2 linked regions of the Homo sapiens genome follow. The protein of the gene in region 2 purifies or fractionates together with the protein of the main gene of each other region. This does not show direct contact. Each region holds a gene or a part of one and is shown on either strand. Other genes may lie near its edges. The genes, in order: ZMYM2 and RREB1.

Region 1 (3,500 bases), on a different chromosome or scaffold from region 2:
TGTATGGCTATAAAGTAAAAAGAATTTGTCTCACTGTATTATAGTCACATTTTACAAACATTATTCTGTCTGCAACTTCTAACTGTGCATCCCAATGTTACTTAGAATAGCTATGTAAGTATTTTTCTTTTTTTTTTTTTATTATACTTTAAGTTTTAGGGTACATGTGCACATTGTGCAGGTTAGTTACATATGTATACATGTGCCATGCTGGTGCGCTGCACCCACTAACTTAAGTATTTTTCTTATCCAACCTAAATGCATGGTTAGAGACAAATAAGTTTAATGCAAGAGTTTTAACAGATCTTTCCCAACATTTGCATATGAAGTTGCAACAATTAGTTATATTCCTAGCAAATTTATCCTGATTACAATTTAACATTAACTTGTAATATAAAAAAACATTTTTATGGATAAATTTTTAAAAACTCTTTAGACTAACTTATAAATTCACAAAAACTAATCTGACCTTGAAATTCACTAGGAACACTTAGAGAGAAAAAAAAAAATCTGGAACCCTCTGAAAAAGAGAGAAAAACCTAATCCTTGGCAGCCTACTGACATTAAAGAGAACGGTCTAAATTAAGAATAAACAAAAACAAGATGATAACTTATACTAATAAAACATAAACGTGCAAAAGTTTTTAAAAACCCAACCTACTGGCTGGGCATGGTGGCTCACGCCTGAAATCCCAACACTTTGGGAGGCCAAGGTGGGAAGATCGCTTGAGTCCAGCAGTTTGAGAGCAGTGTGGACAACAAAGTGGGTCCCTGTCTCTACAAAAAACCGACCTATTAAACATGCATTATCTATTTCTGTGAATAATCACTTTATTTTTTTTTTTATTTTTGAGACGGTCTCTCACTCTATTGCCCAGGCTGGAGTGCAGTGGTGCAATCTTGGCTAACTGCAACCTCCACCTCCCAGTTTCAGGTGATTCTCCTACCTCAGCCTCCTGAGTAGCTGGCATGACGGGTGCCTACCACCATGCCTGACTAATCTTTGTATTTTAGTAGAGACAGGGTTTCACCACATTGGCCAGGCTGGTCTCGAACTCTTGACCTCAGGTGATCCACCCGCCTCAGTCTCCCAAAGCTAAGATTACAGGCGTGAGCCACTGAGCCCGGCCAACCAGTTTACTCTTATGTCATTTCTTGAAATAGCAAACATGAATATTTACAGAACATTAATCAAATCAGTAAAACTAAAACCCAACAGCTATACCCTTCTTTCAAATTAAAGAGCATTGATTTTTCTTAAAATTTATTACTTCTAATTTTCAATGGACTGTTATAAAGTTAAAAATAAAACAGGACTAAGAACAAATCCCAAAGTCATACTAATCAAGTGATTTTGCTAACCTCTCTGCACATCTTTTTAAACTCTTAAAAAGAGTTTAAAAAATGTTTACGAAAATTCATTCTGCAGCTCCACAGAAGTGCTTCAAGTATTGTGTAAAGCTTGATCCAAAAAAAATTAATATATCTTAAATATGCACAAAAACAACAGATATGTTCAAATGTGTTATAATCCAAATTTTAACACATTTTAAAATGACCAACTCATCTTGTTGCCAAGCATTTGGTGATGACCATAAAGACCCTTTTCATATGTCTATTTTAGTAAGAGACATCAAAGACTACGAAGTGATTTGTTTAAAAAACCAGGTTGTAAATATAAAAATGTGCAACTCCAACTACATAAAAAAAAAAATTCTTGCTGGTATACAACCAAAATAAAATATGAAAATAAGCTGCAACTGTTACTCAGATTGCTGCACTCAAATTCATGGATTTATCCAACAGCAATTTTTCTCATTGACAACTTTGTAAGTGTTATATATTGGAGACCTGCATTAGAACTTTTTGATCTGAATACTTCAAAAGTCCTGTTCACTTCTATGCTTTGACAGGAATATAAGAAAATTAACCAACTGAAGTGTTTTTAAAGGAGCAAAACGCAGGGAGTCAAAGCAATTTATTTCTTCCCTAAATTGAAATGCCCTACATAAAATACTATTTGTGAATCCAATGAGAGAAAACACTTGAGTTTGGGCTCTCCTTGCATTCGCTAAAAAAATCACATGCAGGCCGGCACGGTGGCTCACGCCTGTAATCTCAGCACTCTGGAAGGTTGAGGCGGGCAGATCACCGGAGCTCAGGAGTTCGAGACCAGTCTGGCCAACATGGTGAAACCTTGTCTCTACTAAAAATCCCCATCTCTACTAAAAATACAAAACTAGCCAGGTGTAGTGGCACGTGCCTGTAGTCCCAGCTACTTGGGAAGCTGAGGCAGGAGAATGCTTGAACCCTGGAGGCGGAGGCTGCAGTGAGCAGACATCACGCCACTGCACTCCAGCCTGGATGACAGAGACTCTGTCTCAAAAAAAAAAAAAAAAAAATGGCTGGGCAAGGTGGCTTACGCCTGTAATCTCAGCACTTTGGGAGGCTGAGGCAGGCGAATAACTTGAGGCCAGGAGTTCGAGATCAGCCTGACCAACATGGTGAAATCCTGTTTCTACTAAAAATACAAAATTGGTCAGGCACAGTGGCGCATGCCTGTAATCCCAACTACTTGGGAGGCTGAGGCAGGAGAATCACTTGAACCCAGGAGGCAGAGGTTGCAGTGAGCCAAGATCACATCACTGCACTCCAGCCTGGGCAACAAGAGTGAAACTCCATCTCAAAAAAAAAAAAAAAAAAAAAAAAAATATATATATATATATATATCCCATGCAATTTGAATAGCCCAGTCTTCTCATAATCAACGACATTTATTATGATATATATTAATAATATTGTCAAATGGTATAGAGACATATTAATGCTAGAGAGACAGGAAATATAACAATTCTAATTATACCATGCCTTTTGACACCAGGGTTTCAGCATTTCATACCCATTCTTCCCATCACATTAATACCAGAGCATCTGACTGAAGGTAAAGATTCACTTTGTCTCAAATGCATTAATATTAAATTTGTACACTTCTGTACCTCAAACAAGGGCAAAATACAATAAAACTGAAAAAATAAAAACTGTTGTTCAAAGATAATATAAGCTCTATATCCACACAGAAGTTAAAAATGTTCATATGTCAGCATATATGTCATACTTGAGTGATTCAGGATTGTCTCACCACATGAGATACAAAAGCCCAGCCCATGGAAAAGTAGGGACCACTTTATATCTTCCTCCCAACAATTTAAAAGGATAGGTGGGAGGGAACAGATATTAGAAAGGATGCACTAAAGAAATATGCCATAAATATGCAAAGTATTTTTAACTGTCAAAATACTTTGTAAATGGATCTAAAAGCATTTACATATGTTCCTACTGTATAATAAAAGTACTTATTTAGTCAAGGCCAATTAAAAATCATCAGGTTATCTTCATCTTACTGTCTAGCACATAGCAGCATCACTAGTTGCTGTTTTTAAGTAAAGAAATGTTCAACTCTAAGCTAAATCGTTAAGCAAAACAAGAACCATTCTGGTATT
Region 2 (4,029 bases):
TAGCTTGTGCTCCATTTTAGGTTAATGAACTTGCATTGTCTTTGTCTTAAAAATACTGCTAAACTGGTTGCATTTTAGAATGTCTTGTTTTTAAAGAGGATTTGCTGGATGTGTAATACTCTTAAGAAATGCTGCCGATGCTTACCGTTTTGTGGAATATCATTCTCTGGGTTTTTCTAGATACTGCTTTATTTCTCATCAGAAAATCAGACTCTAAGCCCTTATGGCAGACAAGTATTTGTTATGTGATGGGGAACATGCGTCTTATTGAGCTGGTACAGGTAGTGCATCCATTCCTAACTAGTTACATCATCCAACAAGCGACCTTTTGATTGAAGGGTCTTTTAAATTTCTTCGGGCAGACTCCCAAGGCCTTATTTGTATCCAACACAGGTACAGCGTGTTGAAGGAAGAAAATAAACCTACACGTATTAGTCCAGCATCTGATCAACAGCAGTTTATTGGTTACCTGCTGTGTGCCAGGCACTGTACAGTGTAGCTGCCTTAGGTCGTTTTTGCTCTTCAATTTTGAACTGTTGCGTTATTCCACTTCTGAGGTCAGTTAGGAAGTCTTTGCTTGCTATCTTATGCTTGCTTGCTAACATCATTTATCACCTTCAGCTAAGGAAATGTCCTAGTTAATGAAGTTTTAAAATGCTACCCTTTTAGGATTTTGCTCAGCATAATTAATATAAATTTAACTCCTATAAGAATTGGTTAAATATATTCTTTGGAAACAGAAGTGAATTCTTTTGATGTTTCTGTTCATTATCCTTCTGAAAAGTAGGTGGTGCTTAGAAGGTCATAGGATAAGGGTTGCTAAGCAGCTAAACAGAAGGATGCTAAAATTAACCAAAGCATTTTTGAAAGGGAGTCATTCCCTGTTTTACATTATTTACTAGGTTTAGTTAATTTCTGAATCTTCTATGTCCTTTGACCTGGGAAGGTAGGATGTTAAAGTTTGTTTTGGTTTTGTTATTATATTTAAATAATCTCTTTCTTTTGTAAGTGTCTTTAATTGAAGTTCAGTACTCTATGACCAGCCTTGTGGTGTCAGATGGCAGCTTGTCTGGTGGACTTCTTGACTATTACCAGTGTGTTCAGGTTGAACCTTCCTGAGGATTTGTGTGTATAGTACCCTCTTATTTCTAGTATTAATAACTGATTCCATGGTTTGTTTTGGAAATTCTGCATAATCCATAAAGTTATGTCTTTTATTCCGCATGAAACAGATTTGTATTCAAAGATAGAAATGCAATTTAGTATCAGTAGAAAGTATGCAATGTAGTCTGTCCTGATAAGGGGACAATAGCTTTCTTTCCCCCTTTACTGAGATTACCATTCCCTTAGATTAGGTTTTGATAGGGCTTCTCCTCCATTTCATTCCACCTCCCTAGTGCAGTTTATTCCGCCCAGTTCATAGCTATCTTTTTAAAAATAATTATATTAGGTTCAGAGTATCTTTGGAAGGACTGGCCAAATGTCAGAAAACAAAAATAGGTGTGATGTACATTACATTTCTGCCAAAAGTATGTTCAAGTATCTTGAAGTTTTTCATTGAGATAAAATGGTTGAAATCTAATTGAAGCCATGATGAGTAACTATCATCTCTTGGTTGAATGGTAAGCCTGTTGTAAGCCAAAAGTTTCCCTGCTTCAAGGTTAATTTCTGTACATCTGACCTATTGAACAGGCAGTGTTGAGTCATATTTTTTATGTCCAAATATAATTAAGAAATTGATAAATGTATTTTCTTTCTGTTTCTTTTCTCTCTTTCTTTCCTGATTTAGACAGTGATTTTTGAGTAGAAGTAGCCATGGCAGTTTTCAAAGAGCAAGGGTCAGACAGTGATTTCCACAGGGGGGTGAGGGTTGCAGGGTTGCAGGTACCTTATATCAAAGGTAAAAGGTACACCGTATGAAACCCAGAGGGAGGCATACGGTGTGCTCTCTGAAATGCATCACTTATTTTTCATTTCCCCCACTCCCATAGAAGGCAGAATACAGAAAAGAAAACTACTGTTGTTTTCATTACTACGGAGGTAAAAGAATGAGGAAGGTGGAGAGGGGTTTTTCCTTTTTTGTTAGCAGTCCTGTCGGCAATGTCATCGACTGTGCTCCGCCCAATTTCTCTTGTCACGTTCTCTGGTGTTCAGCGTGGTCTGAACTGCAGCCGAGTGTAGCTGGGGATTGCACTCTGCCGTTGGCAGTGGCGGGTTGGGGTGAAGCGGATGGGGAGGAGGAGACTGGGAGCGATCGGTGCATCTTATTTCTGGTGGGACTTCAAGGGTACTGAAGTTAGCCAGTCTGCCCATCAGTAGAGGTGGCTGACTGTGAGTAGGTGCTTCAGACGAAAGCATGGGAGAGGGTGGAGATTGTTTGTTCAGTGTGATTCAAGCCAGTAAAGCTAAGAGAATTCGAAAACCTCTGTGAAGTCCGGGGACTGGGGACTGGGTCCTGACTGCTCCTGCAGGGATTCACCTGAGGGCTTGCAGACATCATGAGGGTGGGTGGAGAAAGAGAATGAAAACCCCCACAGGCATTGTCAGACAGCCAGAGTGAAGAGAAAACGTCTCAGTGGGGGTAATTAGATAAAGCTTTTAAATGCTCTATTTGTTTTTCTCTAGTTTGCTTGGTATTTCATCTCTTTCCCCCTTTTCAGAGACTATGGGATAGAATTGTTATGAAAGTGTCTGATACTTCTGGTGGTTTAATCACTTTAAAATTTTTCTTTTTCATTCAGATATACCTTCTAGGACTTAGTTAATTTCACCCTGCTTTTGTGGAGGCCTTTAGCAAAGATTCCACGTTCATGCTGAGAGGAACACTGTGGGAGTTGGGTGGGTATGTTGACCCATTTTACAGCTGCGCGGTGGTCCACCCGGGGGCTGTTAATGAATCAAACTTGGAACCCAGAACTCCTAACTCCAGCCTAGCCCTGTAGAACAGCTGCTTTTTAGAGTCAGTTTGACCTCAGGAGGACTTAGCAGCATTAAATATATACTGCCTATTTATCTCCATGTGTATGGTGTGTGGTTTTTAAATAAGACCAGATCCTTTTCAAAATAAACCTAATTGAGTTTGAAGGTATAAGGAAATTTTAAAAAGCACTTCTGCTCTTGGTAGCATTTCTGTTGATGAACTGTGATGACATGTATCTTTTTAGTAGCCTTTCTACCTCATGAGATTGTTGTAAGGATAAAGTAGATGTTCCAGAAAGTCAAAATCTATAAACGGAAGAAAGTGGTATATTTTGAGCTCAGGAAGCTTTGTGGGTATCCATTCTGGATTTCCTTTCCAGAATTTTGCACACCTCCATTACCTTAGTCAAATTTTGCCTAGGAGTTTATGTTCAGATTGGGGAAATGCAGCACTTTGTTTTTGTTTTTAGTGCTGGGAGACTAACAGGACTAGCAAATTCTTCTTAATGTGGTTCACTTAGGTGAGGCAGAGTCTTGCTGTCGCCCAGGATGGAGTGCAGTGGCACAATCTTGCCTGTCTGCAACCTCCACCTCCAGGGTTCAAGCGATTCTCCTGCCTCAGTCTCCTGAGCAGGTGGGACTACAGGCACACACCACCACGCCCAGCTAATTTTTGTATTTTTAGTAGTAACAGGGTTTCACCATGTTGATCAGGGTGAGGGATGAGTTTTAAGGAAAAAGCTGATGACAAGCTTGGGGCTTACTCTTTGAAGAAGTGGTTCTCAACCTGGTGGGTTTGCCCCCAGGGGACTTTTGGCACTGTCTGGAGACATTTTTAAGTGTTTCTGGTGGGGGGGGGGGCGGCAGCGGGGAGCTGCTACTGGCCTTTAGTGCATAGACCCCAAAGATGCTGTTCCACATCTTGGAGTGCACAGAACGACCCCCATACGTCAGCAGAGCTGAGGTTGAGAAAGCCTGCTTGAAAGGTACAGTAGTCGTGGCCTGGGTCTCATCTACAAGTCCACTGGGTGCGCTGCCTGTATTGCATGCGATATATTTAGAAATCTGAAATTCCATAAAGCAAGTAAGCTCTTATTTGCCTCTGAGGTA

What was found.
Region 1: the proteins of RREB1 (region 2) and ZMYM2 fractionate together in Homo sapiens (co-fractionation; one large-scale study listed by BioGRID). This does not show direct contact.

What each region holds. Positions count from the first base shown.
Region 1 is NC_000013.11:19,961,727-19,965,226, reverse strand, and holds part of ZMYM2 (zinc finger MYM-type protein 2), read right to left. Parts: intron 8-3,500; coding exon of another isoform or gene 1-7. UniProt on the Homo sapiens protein: Involved in the negative regulation of transcription.
Region 2 is NC_000006.12:7,110,700-7,114,728, forward strand, and holds part of RREB1 (ras-responsive element-binding protein 1), read left to right. Parts: intron 1-4,029.